Homo sapiens: one gene and its partner. The protein of the gene in region 1 interacts with the protein of each later gene in a pairwise test. Each region holds a gene or a part of one and is shown on either strand. Other genes may lie near its edges.

Evidence for each region. The genes of interacting proteins can lie anywhere in the genome.
Region 2: the proteins of NEK1 (region 1) and KIF3A interact in a two-hybrid assay, tested with the Homo sapiens proteins (one study listed by BioGRID and IntAct).

Annotation. Positions count from the first base shown.
Region 1 is NC_000004.12:169,399,546-169,406,583, reverse strand, and holds part of NEK1 (serine/threonine-protein kinase Nek1), read left to right. Parts: intron 1-4,723; coding exon 4,724-4,932; intron 4,933-5,932; coding exon 5,933-6,063; intron 6,064-6,226; coding exon 6,227-6,359; intron 6,360-7,038. UniProt on the Homo sapiens protein: Phosphorylates serines and threonines, but also appears to possess tyrosine kinase activity. Involved in DNA damage checkpoint control and for proper DNA damage repair.
Region 2 is NC_000005.10:132,727,547-132,734,584, reverse strand, and holds part of KIF3A (kinesin-like protein KIF3A), read left to right. Parts: intron 1-106; coding exon 107-380; intron 381-7,038. UniProt on the Homo sapiens protein: Microtubule-based anterograde translocator for membranous organelles. Plus end-directed microtubule sliding activity in vitro. Plays a role in primary cilia formation. Plays a role in centriole cohesion and subdistal appendage organization and function.

The DNA of each region.
Region 1 (7,038 bases):
TCATTAGTAAACAGCATTAAAAGATTTTCTGAATTTATATGTAAAAAAGAGGGGATAACTTACCTAGCTCTTTTTTTTAACTCATTAACCTCTGCTTTTATGTCTTCTGTATATTATTTTTATCTATTTTAAGAGACAGGGTCTCACTCTGTCACCTAGCTGGAATACAGGCTGGACACAGTGGCTATAATGTCATTAGTAAACAGCATTAAAAGAGTTTCTGAATTTATATGTAAAAAAGAGGGGATAACTTACCTAGCTCTTTTTTTTAATCATTAACCTCTGCTTTTATGTCTTCTGTATATTATTTTTATCTATTTTAAGAGACAGGGTGTCACTCTATCACCTAGCTGGAGTGTGGGTTGGACACAGTGGCTCACACCTACAATCCCACCACATTGGGAGGCCAAGGCAGGAGGAATGTGAGACCAGCCTGGGCAACATAGTGAGACACCATCTCTACAAAAAAAAATTTATTTTTTCTTTTGAGGTGGACTCTTGCTCTGTCACCCAGGCTGGAGTGCAGTGGCATGATCTTGGCTCACGGCGACCTCTGCCTCCCAAGTTCAAGCGATTCTCCTCCTCAGCCTCCTGAGTAGCTGAGATTACTTGCCACCACGCCTGGCTAATTTTTGTATTTTTGGTAGAGATGGGGTTTCAGCATGTTGGTCAGGCTGGTCTCAAACTCCTGACCTCAAGCGATCTGCCCACCTTGGGCTCCCAAAGTGCTAGGATTACGGGCATGAGCTACCACACCTAGCCAAAAAAAATTTTTTTAATAGCCAGGTTTGTTTCCACATGCCTTGTAGGTAGTCTCAGCTACTCAGGAGGCTGAGGTGGAAAAATCATTTGAGCCCAAGAGTTTGAGGCAGCAGTGAGCCATGATCATGCCACTGCACTCCAGCCTGAGCAACAGAGTGAGACCCTGTCTCAAAAATGAAAAATAAATAAGCTGGAGTGCACTGGCATGATGATAGCTCACTGCAGCCTCCAACTCCTGGACTCAAGCAATCTTTCCACTTCACTCTCCCAAATAGCTAGGATTACAGGTGTGAGCCACTGGGACTGGCCAAGTTAATTTATTATTGCAGAAAAATAAATTGATAAATTTAGTGTAGCCTAAGCATATACTGTGTTTATAAGTCTATAGTAGTGTATAGTAATGTCCTATGATAAGTACCCTATAAAGTTTACCATTTTTTATCTTTTATACAGTGTTTTCACTGTACCTTTTCTATGTTTAGATATATTTAGAATAGACAGATAGCATTGTGTTACAGTTGCTTCCAGTACTGAGTACAGTCATATGCTGTACAGGTTTGTAGCTTAGGAGTAAACAGGCTCTACTTTGTAGCCTAGGTATGTAGTTAGCTATACTGACTAGGTTTGTGTAAGCACATTCTATGATGTTAGCACAACAATGAAATTGGCTATAACAATGCATTTCTCAGAATGCTTCCTGTTGTTAAGCAATTCATGACTGTGCTCTACAGTTTCCCAGGAGAATGACCAGAAAGCTCCACATCTACCTCTTGCCATATATGATTTCAAAGCCATGCCAATGGGGAGTTAGCAGGTCGACCAGTTTTGTTCATGTGTGTGTGTGCACATGTGTCAGTGCACACATGTTTTCTGCATGTAATTGGATTGTTTTCACAAAATTGCTTTCTTTGTGATTCATGGGGAATCCTGAATCTAGGAGGGAAATTTAACAAGCAATACCTCTGAGAGCTGTAAGGAGTGATAACCCCTTAGATTGTGCACATGTACCCTAAAACTTAAAGTAAAATTAAAAAAAAAATTTTTTTCCATAAAAAAACAAAAAGAACCTTCCTTTACCTTGTTCAGTGTTGGTCAGCCCTCTCAACTGTCTTAGACAAATGTTACACACTTTTTGGTGTAATAAAACCAGAGTTTCCTAGAGTAAGGTGAGAAGGTACAGTGTGTTCAAATCACCTGGATAAAAAGTTATAAAATATTAGAATTTTTATAATTTATTTTGTAATTTCTTTGAACTTGTTTCTGCTTTTTACTTTTACCTTTGGAAAGAACTTGTATTTTGATCTGATTGAAAGTATTATATCACTCTCATAATGTTTTCTTCTGTATTGAGTTACGTAGGATCGATGCCGCTGGCACATTTTATTTTCTGGTTTTTGGTTCTTTTTTAAGCCTTGCCCTTGCTTCTTAAGTTTCTGGTGAAACTTCATTTTTAAAAGATTGCCTTTTTCATTTTTCCTAGAGTTCTGTAGATTTTTGCTAATGACCTTACAATCTAGAAGAAAAGTTACCTTTTTACTTTTGTTTCTTCTACTTGACTGTAGTCATTAAACACTGAAATATTGTGTTTTTATTAATCCTATTGGAGAACATAACAACATTCAGGATTTTTATTGTTGACAAACTGCTAACTAAAATTTTTTTCCCAAAAATTTTATGAAATCATTTATTTTTATCTGAATGAACTACAGCTTATTTGTGGCTTGTGTTCTTTTATTTTTTCTTTCTTCCAAGCTGCTAAGTTTGTGTTATGCATGTGTTCTTTTAATGAACAATTGATGACAGAATTTTATTTTAAAACTTAAGTTAGAAGCCTTTAGTATTAATTGAAAAATTCGAAAACCAAGTTGTTTTTAAAGTACGTTATTTCATATTGTTATAGGGATATTTCACTTGATGTTTGTCTTTGGAAAATTATTATTATTTTTTTTTGTCTAAACTTTAGTCAAGATTTTATAAGATAGCCAACTAAAAACTGAATTCAAGACCAAATTTTTTTAAGTACCTTAAAGTTTTTTGGTGCTCATTTAGTAAAAGATCTTAATCTTCTCATACTTTCTTACAGTGGCAAGCTTAGCTGCCTCAATTGAATACCATCTGCAGAGGGTACTAATTCCTCTAGGCCAGCCACTAGATGATTTTATGAACAGGTCAATATTTACTCATTGTAGTAATGGTACATAGCAGGTGTGCATACTTCGTTGATCTTTTTTTAATAATAAAATTTTTTGGGGGAGATAGGGTCTCACTCTGTCACCCTGGCTATAGTACAGTGCTGCAATCATAGTTCACAGCAGCCTTGGACTCCTGGGCTCAAGCAGTCCTCCTGCCTCAGACTCCCTAGTAGCTAGGAATACAGGCTCGTGCCACCACGCCTAGCTAAGTTTTTTGCAATTTTTTTTCTAGAGGGGTCTCGCTATGTTGCCCAGGCTTGTCTCAAACTCCTGGCCTCAAGCAATCCTCTTGTCTCAGCCTCCCAAAGGGCTAGGATTACAGGCATGAGCCACTGTACCCAGCCTAAATTAGTCTTGTAATTATATATTAAGTTAAATGCTACTAGTAGGATGATTCAAGAGATTAGACACTATTTTCTCATTCTAATTAGATGCTTTGCTTTTCTATAGCTCCTACAAGTCAAATTGTAGGCGTTTGTACATATAAGTACAAAATAAAGATATTTCTACATAAAAAGATTATTTACTCTATTAATGGAAATTATATTGACAGTCTTACACAATAGTGTTTATATTTTAGTTCTTCAGTAAATATTTGATTGGAGTCTAAACTTTTAGAAAGGCCTTAATTAGCCCTTGTGTCCTGTTAAGCATTGCCTTCCTGATAGATGAAATCCCGGCTTAGGTACATAATCTCTTTTAGAAGTCTTCAGACATCTAAAACATCAGTTAACTCCTTTAGTCTACAAACTTTTCCATTTACATTCCATGTTAGGATAAAGAAGCAAATCATAAGAGGAAAAAAATTTTTCTGAGTATGTTTCTCAGATATTACAGAAGTGGTCAAAGACTAGATTTCAGTGCTCTGTCATTTACTGACTATGTGGCCTTGACCAAGTCATTTAAACATTTTGGTTCATAGTTTTCATGTCTCTAAAGTGATTTTTTGTGGATAAAATTTGAGTAGTAGGATAAAAATGTTTAAAAAACAAAAGTTCTATATAAATGTAAGGTATTATTTGTATAAGTTATTTCATTCCAGCATCTATAATCCCATGAAAATAGAATGAATATTCTTACCAATACTTTGGAAACAAAATTCTCCAGTGAAGAATTATGATGGTTGGTATAGGCTAGTTACACAGAAAATCTATTATGTATTTTAGAACATTTTTAAGAATAAGCATCTAAAGATAAGATTTCTGGTGACCATTTTATTCACTGGGTCATCCTATTAACATGAATATAAAATTTCCTAAGTATTTCTATTTCTAAAAGTTCAAATGCCCAATGGGCATGTATATGGAAAGCCTTTTGTATAGTGTCTAGCTATTAGCCACATGGATATTTTGAAAATTACAAAATTCCATAAAAGAGAAAATAATTTACTATTATTTGTTTTAGAAAAACTTCTATAGTCTGGCCTGTTAAAATATCAAAACATTGTTTCAGAATTTAAGCAATGAGTAACATCGATAGTTATGTGATTCTCTTTGGCAAGTTGGGATCATTTTAAACAAATCATCTTCTGGCTTATATATTCCAGAATATGTGTTGTGTGATATATTTATCAGTTGTATTCATCCTCAATTTACCGGTGAAAAACAATGTAGGCTTTTTCCAGATTTTTTGTTATCTACTATTAGGATTTTTTAAGAAGTGCCTACGTATTGAGTAGAAGTAAAATTTCAGTATGAGGTAGTTTTAGTTGTTTAACTTGGTAAATTTCAGTATGTTTGAAACTTTTAGTTATACTTTTTAAATTTCAGTGTGTTTGAAGAAACTGACACAGATTTACAAGAGCTGCAGGCCTCGATGGAACAGTTACTTAGGGAACAACCTGGTGAAGAATACAGTGAAGAAGAAGAGTCAGTCTTGAAGAACAGTGATGTGGAGCCAACTGCAAATGGGACAGATGTGGCAGATGAAGATGACAATCCCAGCAGTGAAAGTGCCCTGAACGAAGAATGGCACTCAGGTGCATGATCAGAGTTTTGGACCTTTTTCTTTTTCAGTTTACAAATATTTCAAGTAGAGTGTATTTTTCTAATCTCTGCTGTGAACCATTTCCAACTTTAAATACAACTGAAGCATGCCTCTGGGTCTCTCCCCTTTTTTCATTCTTTTTCTTTTCATACAAATGTGTGATTTTCCATTTTTTATTAAAGTTTTTATTTCTTTCCTATTATGTCAATGCTTTTTTGAAGCATTTTTATTCTAATCTCCATTTATTGACTGATTTTTCCAGTAATAAAGATAATAACATTGTTTTCTTGGCATTCTATATTTTAGAAAGAGCTTCTGCATATATTAACCAGCAGAGTTAACACTGAAAGCAGTTTTTAAAGTACTAAAAACTCTTTTCGTAAATTTGTAAACTTTCTCTTTCATAATATTACCCCTAAGATGCATAGAAAGTGTGTCTGTTTCAATAACTATATGATATTAATTTAGGAAGAAAAGCTAATGTGAAAAGACTAAGTAATTTTTTTCAAAGTATGTCGAGCACGTACATGACAAAACATATTGGCCATTTATACTTTCTAGGTGCTTTCCTGAAATGTAATGATGTATGTCTTAGGTTGTCTACCTTTTGCAGGCTTTTCCATGGTGTTTCCCGTGTTTATTACCAACTTTTGAAAATACTAGTTAGGGTTAGCTGCTTCAAAGCAAAACATGGAGGTGTGCTTTTTCCACTTTTTTTTTTTTATTTAAGTAACATCTCTAGGAGTGTTTTGATTCCAACCTGATTTATTTTTTATATCTATACATGAAAAGTAACATTCTTGTTTAGACAGATTTATACATTTTTTTTGCCAAATAAAGGACAAATATTAAAATGACAAAAACTGTTTATAATGAAAGTAGAAGTAGTCTATTTCAATGGCATTATTCATTTGTCATAGAATTTTAGTCTATTAGGGTATGAGTTATTCAGTCTTTTTAAATCAAATCTCTATTTTAATTTTGTTTTTTAGATAACAGTGATGGTGAAATTGCTAGTGAATGTGAATGCGATAGTGTCTTTAACCATTTAGAGGAACTGAGACTTCATCTGGAGCAGGAAATGGGCTTTGAAAAATTCTTTGAGGTTTATGAGAAAATAAAGGTAAGTGAAAAGTCAATTAAAACACTTAAAATGTGCTATGTTTGAAGGTTGAAGAAATGTTGATAATCTGTATTGGTCATTAGATTTATTATAAATAAAAAGTGAAGTCTGCAATTACAGAAAGTTATTCAAATATTAATTTATATTTGGGAATTTGGTATAGGCTATTCATGAAGATGAAGATGAAAATATTGAAATTTGTTCAAAAATAGTTCAAAATATTTTGGGAAATGAACATCAGCATCTTTATGCCAAGATTCTTCATTTAGTCATGGCAGATGGAGCCTACCAAGAAGGTAAGATTTCCTCACATGTCTGTATAATTTTCAGTAAATGTGAGAAAAACAAGATGATACATGTATATGAATCAGCTTACATCACATCCATTTTGTGAAATCTACTTGGGAACTATATAACTTTTAAGCAATAATAAAATTAACTTTGTCATGTACTTTTACTGATCTGTCATATACTTTTACTGACTTAAGTCCTTTAAGTCCATATTTTTAATTTAATTTACAAGTAACCTTTGAATGAGGTTTTTAAAAATCTTACTAGATAGATTTTTGGACAGCTCTAGCAATTAGAATAATCCTAGCCGGGTGCCGTGGTTTATGCTTGTGATTCCAGCTACTTGGGAGGCTTAAGTGGGAGGATGGCTTGAGGCCAGGAGTTTGAGACCAGCCTGGACAACATAGTGAAACCCTATCTCTACACACAAAAAAATTTTTAATTAGCTAGGCATAGTGGTGGGCACCTCTAGTCCCAGCTACTCAGGGGACTGAGGTGGGAGGATTGCTTGAGCCCAGGAGTTTGAAGCTGCAGTGAGCTGTGATTGTGCTACTGCACTCAGCCTTGGTGACAAAGCCAGACCCTGTCTCAAAAAAGTAAATAAATAAAAATAAAGAAGATTATAACTTAGAATAATTCATTTTTTTTTGTTTTTTTTGAGACAGAGTCTTATTGCCCAGGCTG
Region 2 (7,038 bases), on another chromosome or scaffold:
GCAAGGCACTGAGTTGGAAAAGTAGCCTTTTAAAGTTTATAAATTTAATCTGATGAGGGTAAAAATTAATGTTCTTTTCATTATTTGTAAATATTATCTCCAACAGATCAATAAATCAGAGAAGCCAGAAAGCTGCGATAATGTGAAGGTTGTTGTTAGGTGCCGGCCCCTCAATGAGAGAGAGAAATCAATGTGCTACAAACAGGCTGTCAGTGTGGATGAGATGAGGGGAACTATCACTGTACATAAGACTGATTCTTCCAATGAACCTCCAAAGACATTTACTTTTGATACTGTTTTTGGACCAGAGAGTAAACAACTTGATGTTTATAACTTAACTGCAAGACCTATTATTGATTCTGTACTTGAAGGCTACAATGGTAAGTGAATCTTTACTTTTTAAAAAACTCCCTTATTGAGACATAATTACTGTGCCATAAATTCACATATTGCAGCTGTGCAGTTTGATGAGTGTAGTAAATATATACAGTTGTGAAACCATCATCACAATCCAGCTTTAGAACACCCTTGTCATCCTCAAAATTTCCTTTATGCCCATTTGCAGACCCACCCCCAAGCAACTATTGATCTGCTTTCTGTCACTATAATTTTGCCTTTTCTTGAAATGTCATATAAATGATGTCATATAATATGTCACCTTTTTTATCTGTTTTCTTTCACATCAAATAATGTTTTTGAAGTTTATCCTGCTAGGATTTTCATAGGGATTGTGTTGAATTGTCATTCTGACAATATTGAGTCTTCAGTCCATGAACATGATACTTCTCTTCATTTAAAACGTTGAAACATTAATGAATTATGGACAGGGTCTTGCTCTGTTGCCCAGGCTGGAGTGCAGTGGTGCAGTCATAGCTTACTGCAGCCTTGAACCTGGGCTGAAGCTATCCTCTCACTTCTGCCTCCTGAGTAATGAGAACTACAGCTGTGCGCCACCACACCTGGCTCATTTTTTTGTTTTTGTAAAGACTGGGTCTTGCTGTGTTGCTCAGTCAGGTCTTGAACTCCTAGGCTCAAGCAATCTCCTACTGAGGCCTTTCAAAGCCCTGGGATTTCCCATGTCAGCTACCATGTCCAGCTTCTCTCCATTTATTTATATCTTAATTTCTCTCATCTGTATTTTGTAGCTTTTAGTGTACAAGTATTGCACTTGTTTTGATTAATTTATTCCTAAGTATTTTTTTGATGCTATTGTGAATAGGATTGCTTTCATAATTTCAATTTTGGATTGTGTGTTACTAATATATAGAGATGAAATTGATTTCTTTAGGTAGCTTTTGTGATAAAATTCAAATATCAAATTTATGATTTTAACCATTTTACACTTTATAGTTCATAGGTACATTTACAATGTCGTACAGCTGTCACCGCTGTCTGTTTCCAGAACATTTCTATCACTCCAAAAAGAAACCCTGTATCCATTAGCAGTCAGTCACTCCCAATCCATTACCACCTCCCTTCCCCCAACCCAGCAACTACTAATTTACTGTCTATATCTATTCTATGAGTTTGCCTATTCTGGACATTTTCTATAAATGGAATTATATGCTATGTGGCCTTTTGTGAATAACTTCTTTCACTTACAGTGTTTTCAAGCTTCATCCCTATTGTAACATATAAACATATATCAGCAATTCATTACTTTTTTTTTTTTTTTGGAGACGGAGTCTTGCTCTGTCGCCCAGGCTGGATTGCAGTGGCGTGATCTTGGCTCACTGCAACTTCTGCCTCCTGGGTTCAAGCGATTCTCCTGCCTCAGCCTCCTGAGTAGCTGGGACTACAGGCGCCCGCCAACACACCCAGCTAATTTTTTGTGTTTTTAGTAGAGACGGGGTTTCACCGTGTTAGCCAGGATGGTCTTGATCTCCTGACCTTGTGATCCGCCTGTCTCAGCCTCTGAAAGTGCTGGGATTACAGGCGTGAGCCACTGCACCTGGCTGATTTTTGTATTTTTAGTAGAGACGGGGTTTCACCATATTGGCCAGGCTGGTTTTGAACTCCTGATCTTGTGATCCACCCGCCTCGGCCTCCCAAAGTGCTGAGATTACAGGCGTGAGCCATTGCACTAGGCCAGCAATTCATTATTTTTTATGTCTGAATAATATTGTATAGATATATCATATTTTGTTTATCCATTTATTAGTTGGTGAACATTTGTTGTTTCTACTTTTTAGCTATTACAGATAATGTTACTTTGAACATTCTTTTACAGATTTTTGTGTGAACATATGTTTAGTTTCTCTTGGGTATATACCTAAGAGTGGAATTACTAGGTCACATGGTAACTTTGTTTAATGTTTTGAGGAGCTGCCAAACTTTTCTACAGTAGCTACACCATTTTATATTCCCATCAGCAATGTGTGAGGTTTCTGATTTCTTCACATCTTTGCCAGCACTTGTTACTGTCTTTTTGATGACTGCCCTCTTAGTACCCACAGTTGATTTTTGTATATTGACCTTGTATCCTGAAACTTTGCTAAACTTATTAATTCTAGTAGTTTTTTTATGTTTTGGGTTTTTTGTAAATTTTGTAGGATTTTCTACTTGTAAGAATATGTTGGCCAGGCACAGTGGCTCACGCCTGTAATCCCAGCACATTGGAGGCCGAGGCAGGCAGATCACGAGGTCGGGAGTTCGAGACTAGCCTGACCAACATGGTGAAACCCTGTCTCTACTAAAAATAAAAAAATTAGCCAGGCATGGTGGCACGTGCCTGTAATCCCAGCTACTCGGGAGGCTGGGGCAGGAGAATCGCCTGAACCTCGGAGGCGGAGGTTGCAGTGAACCAAGATCGTGCCATTGCACTCCAGCCTGGGTGACAGGGCAAGACTCTGTCTCAAAAAAAAAAAAAAATGTTGTTTGCAAGTAAAGACAGTTTTTACTTTGTCCTTTCCAATCTCCTTTAATTTATTTTTGTTACCTGATAGCACCTGGAGGCTAGAACCTCCAGTAAATTAGAAGTGGTGAGAGTGGACATTTTGGTCTTGTTCCTGATCTTAGGGAAAATGCATTCATTCTTTCACCAGTATGATGATGTCTGTAAATTTTAACAGATATCCTTTGTAGGTTTGAGGAAGTTCCCTTCTATTCTTAGTTCGCTGAGAGTTTTTGGATTGTATATTGGATTTTGTCAAATGTAATTTTTTTTCTGCACCTATTGAAATAATCTTTTTTTTTAAGGTTTGTTAATATGGTCAATTACATTGATTGATTTTTGAATGTGAAACTAGCTTTGCCACTTGGTCATGATGCATTATTCTGTTCATATATTGTTAGATTTATTTGCTAAATTAAAAAAATTTTGGCATCCATGTTCATGAGGGATGTAAGTATATAGTTTTCTTCTAATGCATTTTTCTGGTTTGGGTATTGTGATAATGCTAGTTTCATAGAATGGGTTAGAAAGTATCCCCTTCTTTTCAGTTTTCTAGAAGAATTTGTCTAGAATTGGTATTATTTCTTAAATGTTTGGTAGAATTCATCAGTGAAGCCATCTGGGCTTGAAGTTTTCTTTGTGGGAAGGTTTTCAACTATTGATTCAATTTCTTTAATAGACATAAGACTATTCAGATTATGTATTTTTTCTTTTTCTCTTTAAATCAGGGTCTCACTCTGTTACCCAGGCTGGAGTACAGTGGCACAATCACAGCTCACTGCAGCCTCGACTTCCTGGCCTTAAGCAATCCTCCCACCTCAGCCTCCCCAGTAGCTGAGGCTACAGGTGTGTGCTACCACGCCTGGCTAATTTTTTCTATTATTATTATTTTTTTCTTGAAACAGGGTCTCACTCTGTCGACCAGGCTGGAGTGCAGTGGTGTGATCATGGCTCACTTAGCGTCTACCTCCCGGGCTCAAGCGATCCTCCCACTTCAGCCCCCTGAGTAGGTGGGACTATATGTGTGTGCCACCGCACCATGCCCAGCTAATTTTAATTTTTTTTTGGTAGAGATAAGGGTCTCACTATGTTTTCTAAGCTGGTCTTGAACTCCTGGACTCAACCAGTCCTCCCACCTCAGCCTTGCAAAGCACTGGGATTACAGACATGAGCTACCGTGCCCGGCCAGGTTATCTATTTTTTCTTTTTTTTTTTTTCTTTTTTTGAGACAGAGTCTTGCTCTGTTGCCCAGGCTGGAGTGCAGTGGCGCGATCTCGGCTCACTGTCTCCTCTGCTTCCCCGGGTTCCAGCGATTCTCTCGCCTCAGCCACCTGGGTAGCTGGGATTACAGGCACACGCCACCATGCCTGGCTCATTTTTGTAGTTTTAGTAGGGACGGGTTTCACCGTATTGGCCAGGCTGGTCTCAAACTACTGACCTCAGGTGATCCGCCTGCCTTGGCCTCCCGGAGTGCTGGGATTACAGGCGTGAGCCACCGTGCCCAGCCAGTTTTTTCTTAAGTGAGGTTTGGTAGCTTGTCTTTCACGGAATTAGTCCGTTTCATCTAAGTTGTCAAATTCATTGGCAAAAGGTTGTTTATACTATTCCCTTATTATTCTTTTAGTATGTTGAATGTAGTGGTATAACTTTTCTCATTTTTGATATTGGTAACTTACGTCTTTTCTTTTTTTCCTGATTAGTCTGACTAGAGGTTTATCTTATCGATCTTCTCAGAGAACCAGCTTTTGGTTTTATTAATTTTTCTTTCTGTTTTTATGTTTCCTATTTCATCTATTTCTGCTCTGATCTTTATTTTTTTTTCTTACTTACTTTGGGCTTAATTTCCTCTTTTCTTTCTACTTAAAGTGGAAGCTGAGGCCATGGTTTGAGACCTTTTTTCCTTTCTAATATGGGAGTTTAATGCTATAAATTGCCACTGAGTACTGTTTTAGTGTCATCCCACAGATTTTGACATACTATGTTTTCATTTTCATGTAGTTCAAAATACTATTTTACCTCCTGATTTATTCTTTGATCCTGGGTTATTTAGAAATGTGTTATTTAGTTTCCAAATATTTTTAAATTCTCTAGAGATTTTTGGTTATTGGTTTCTAATTTAATCTCAATTTAGAGAACATATTTTTTATGGCTTGAATGTTTTTAAATTTATTAAGACTTGTTTTATGACCCAGAATATAGTTTTGTTGTTGTTGTTGTTTTCTGTTTGTTTTGTTTTTTTCAAGACAAGGTCTCACCCTGTCACCCAGGCTGGGGTGCAGTGGCACTATAACGGCTCATTGCAGCCTCAGCCTCCTGGACTCAAGTGATTCTCTCGCTTCAGCCTTCCCAGTAGCTGAGACTACAGGAGCATCCCACCATGTCTGGCTAATTTTTTTTTAAATTTAGTTTTAATTTCAATAAGTTTTTGGGGAACAGGTGGTGTTTAGTTACATGAATAAGTTCTTCAGTGGTGATTTCTGAGATTTTGGTGCACCCATCACCCAAGCAGTGTACACTGTACCCAATGTGTAGTCTTTTATCTCTCACTCGCCTCCCACTCTTTCCCCTGAGTTCCCAAAGTCCGCTGTATCGTTCTTACGCCTTTGCACCCTCCTAGCTTAGCTCCTACTTGTAAGTGAGAACATACGATGTTTGATTTTCTGTTCCTGAGTTACTTCTCTTAGAATAATAGTCTCTAGTTCCATCCAGGTTGCTGCCAGTGCCATTATTTTGTTCCTTTTTATGCATGCCTGGCTAATTTTTAAAATTTTTTGTAGAGATGGGGTCTCACTGTGTTGCCTAGGTGTTGCCTAGCTGGTCTTGAACTCCTGGGCTCAGGTGATTCTCCCACCTCAGCCTCTCAAAGTGCTGGGACTATAGCAGGAGCCACGGCACCCAGCCCAGAATATAGTTTATTATATTTATTTATTTATTTATTTATTTATTGTATTTTTTGAGACAGAGTCTCACTCTGTCACCCTGGCTGGAGTGCAATGGTGCGATCTTGGCTCACTGCAGCCTTCGCCTCCCAGGTTCAAGCAATTCTTGTGCTTCACCTTCCCGAGTAGCTGGGACTACAGGCATGTGCCACCACACCCAGCTAATTTTTGTATTTTTAGTAGAGGTGGAGATTCACCATGTTGGCCAGGCTGGACTCAAACTCCTGACCTCAAGTGATCTGCCCTCCTTGGCCTCCCCAAAGTTCTGGGATTACAGGCATGAGCCACCCCGCCTGGCCATAGTTTATTATCTTTAAATAATAGTAATAATAATAAATAGTGCCTATTTTTTAGGATTGGGGTGAAAGTTAAATAAGAATGCAAACATAGCTGGGAGGTGCACCTGTAATCCCAGCTATTTACAGGTGGATTACAGGCAGGAGGATTCTCCTGAGCCCAGGAGTTTGAGGCTGCAGTGAGCTATGATCGTGCCACTGCTCTCTAGTCTGAGTGACAGGGCAAGACCTCATCTCTTAAAAAAAAAGCATGTAAAGTACATGACCTAGCACATAGCAAATGATCAGTAAGTGACAGCTGATGTCCTTATAAAGCTTATTTTTTATTTAATAATTTAATGTGTCTATTCTGAAATGCAGTCTATGAGCTCATGATATTTTCTGCTTCAAGTGCAGTGTTATATTCCTAATAGCAGAGTTTGAAATACTTAGTCAGTTTGAAAAAATTAAGACTTTTTTATTCCCATGTGTAAAAAATGGCTTCTGGTATGATTCATTTATTTTCACGGAAAAGTCTGAAAAGTGTGTTATGATTATTTTCACAAAAAAAAGTCTGAGAAAAGTTGAGGTTAACTGAATAGAGTAGTATTAGTTGAGGAACCGTTTTCATATATGCCATCACATCCAAGGCTATCTTTTCTTACTACACTGTGTCCTGACCAACTACTCCAGCCCTCTGTTTCCCCACATCGACCCTTGGTTTTCTCCAATTCTTCATCCACAATATAGCCATAGTGATCATGATGTCACTCCTCTGATTGAAAAATCATTCTATGGCTTCATGTTGCTTTTAGGATAAGGTCTAAAAAGTTTAATACCGTCCTTATTATACTGTGTGATTATGGCATTGTCAGTTTCTCTAGCTCTGCCTGCATCCATCTTCCCTTTCCATCTCTGTTTCTTCCATTCT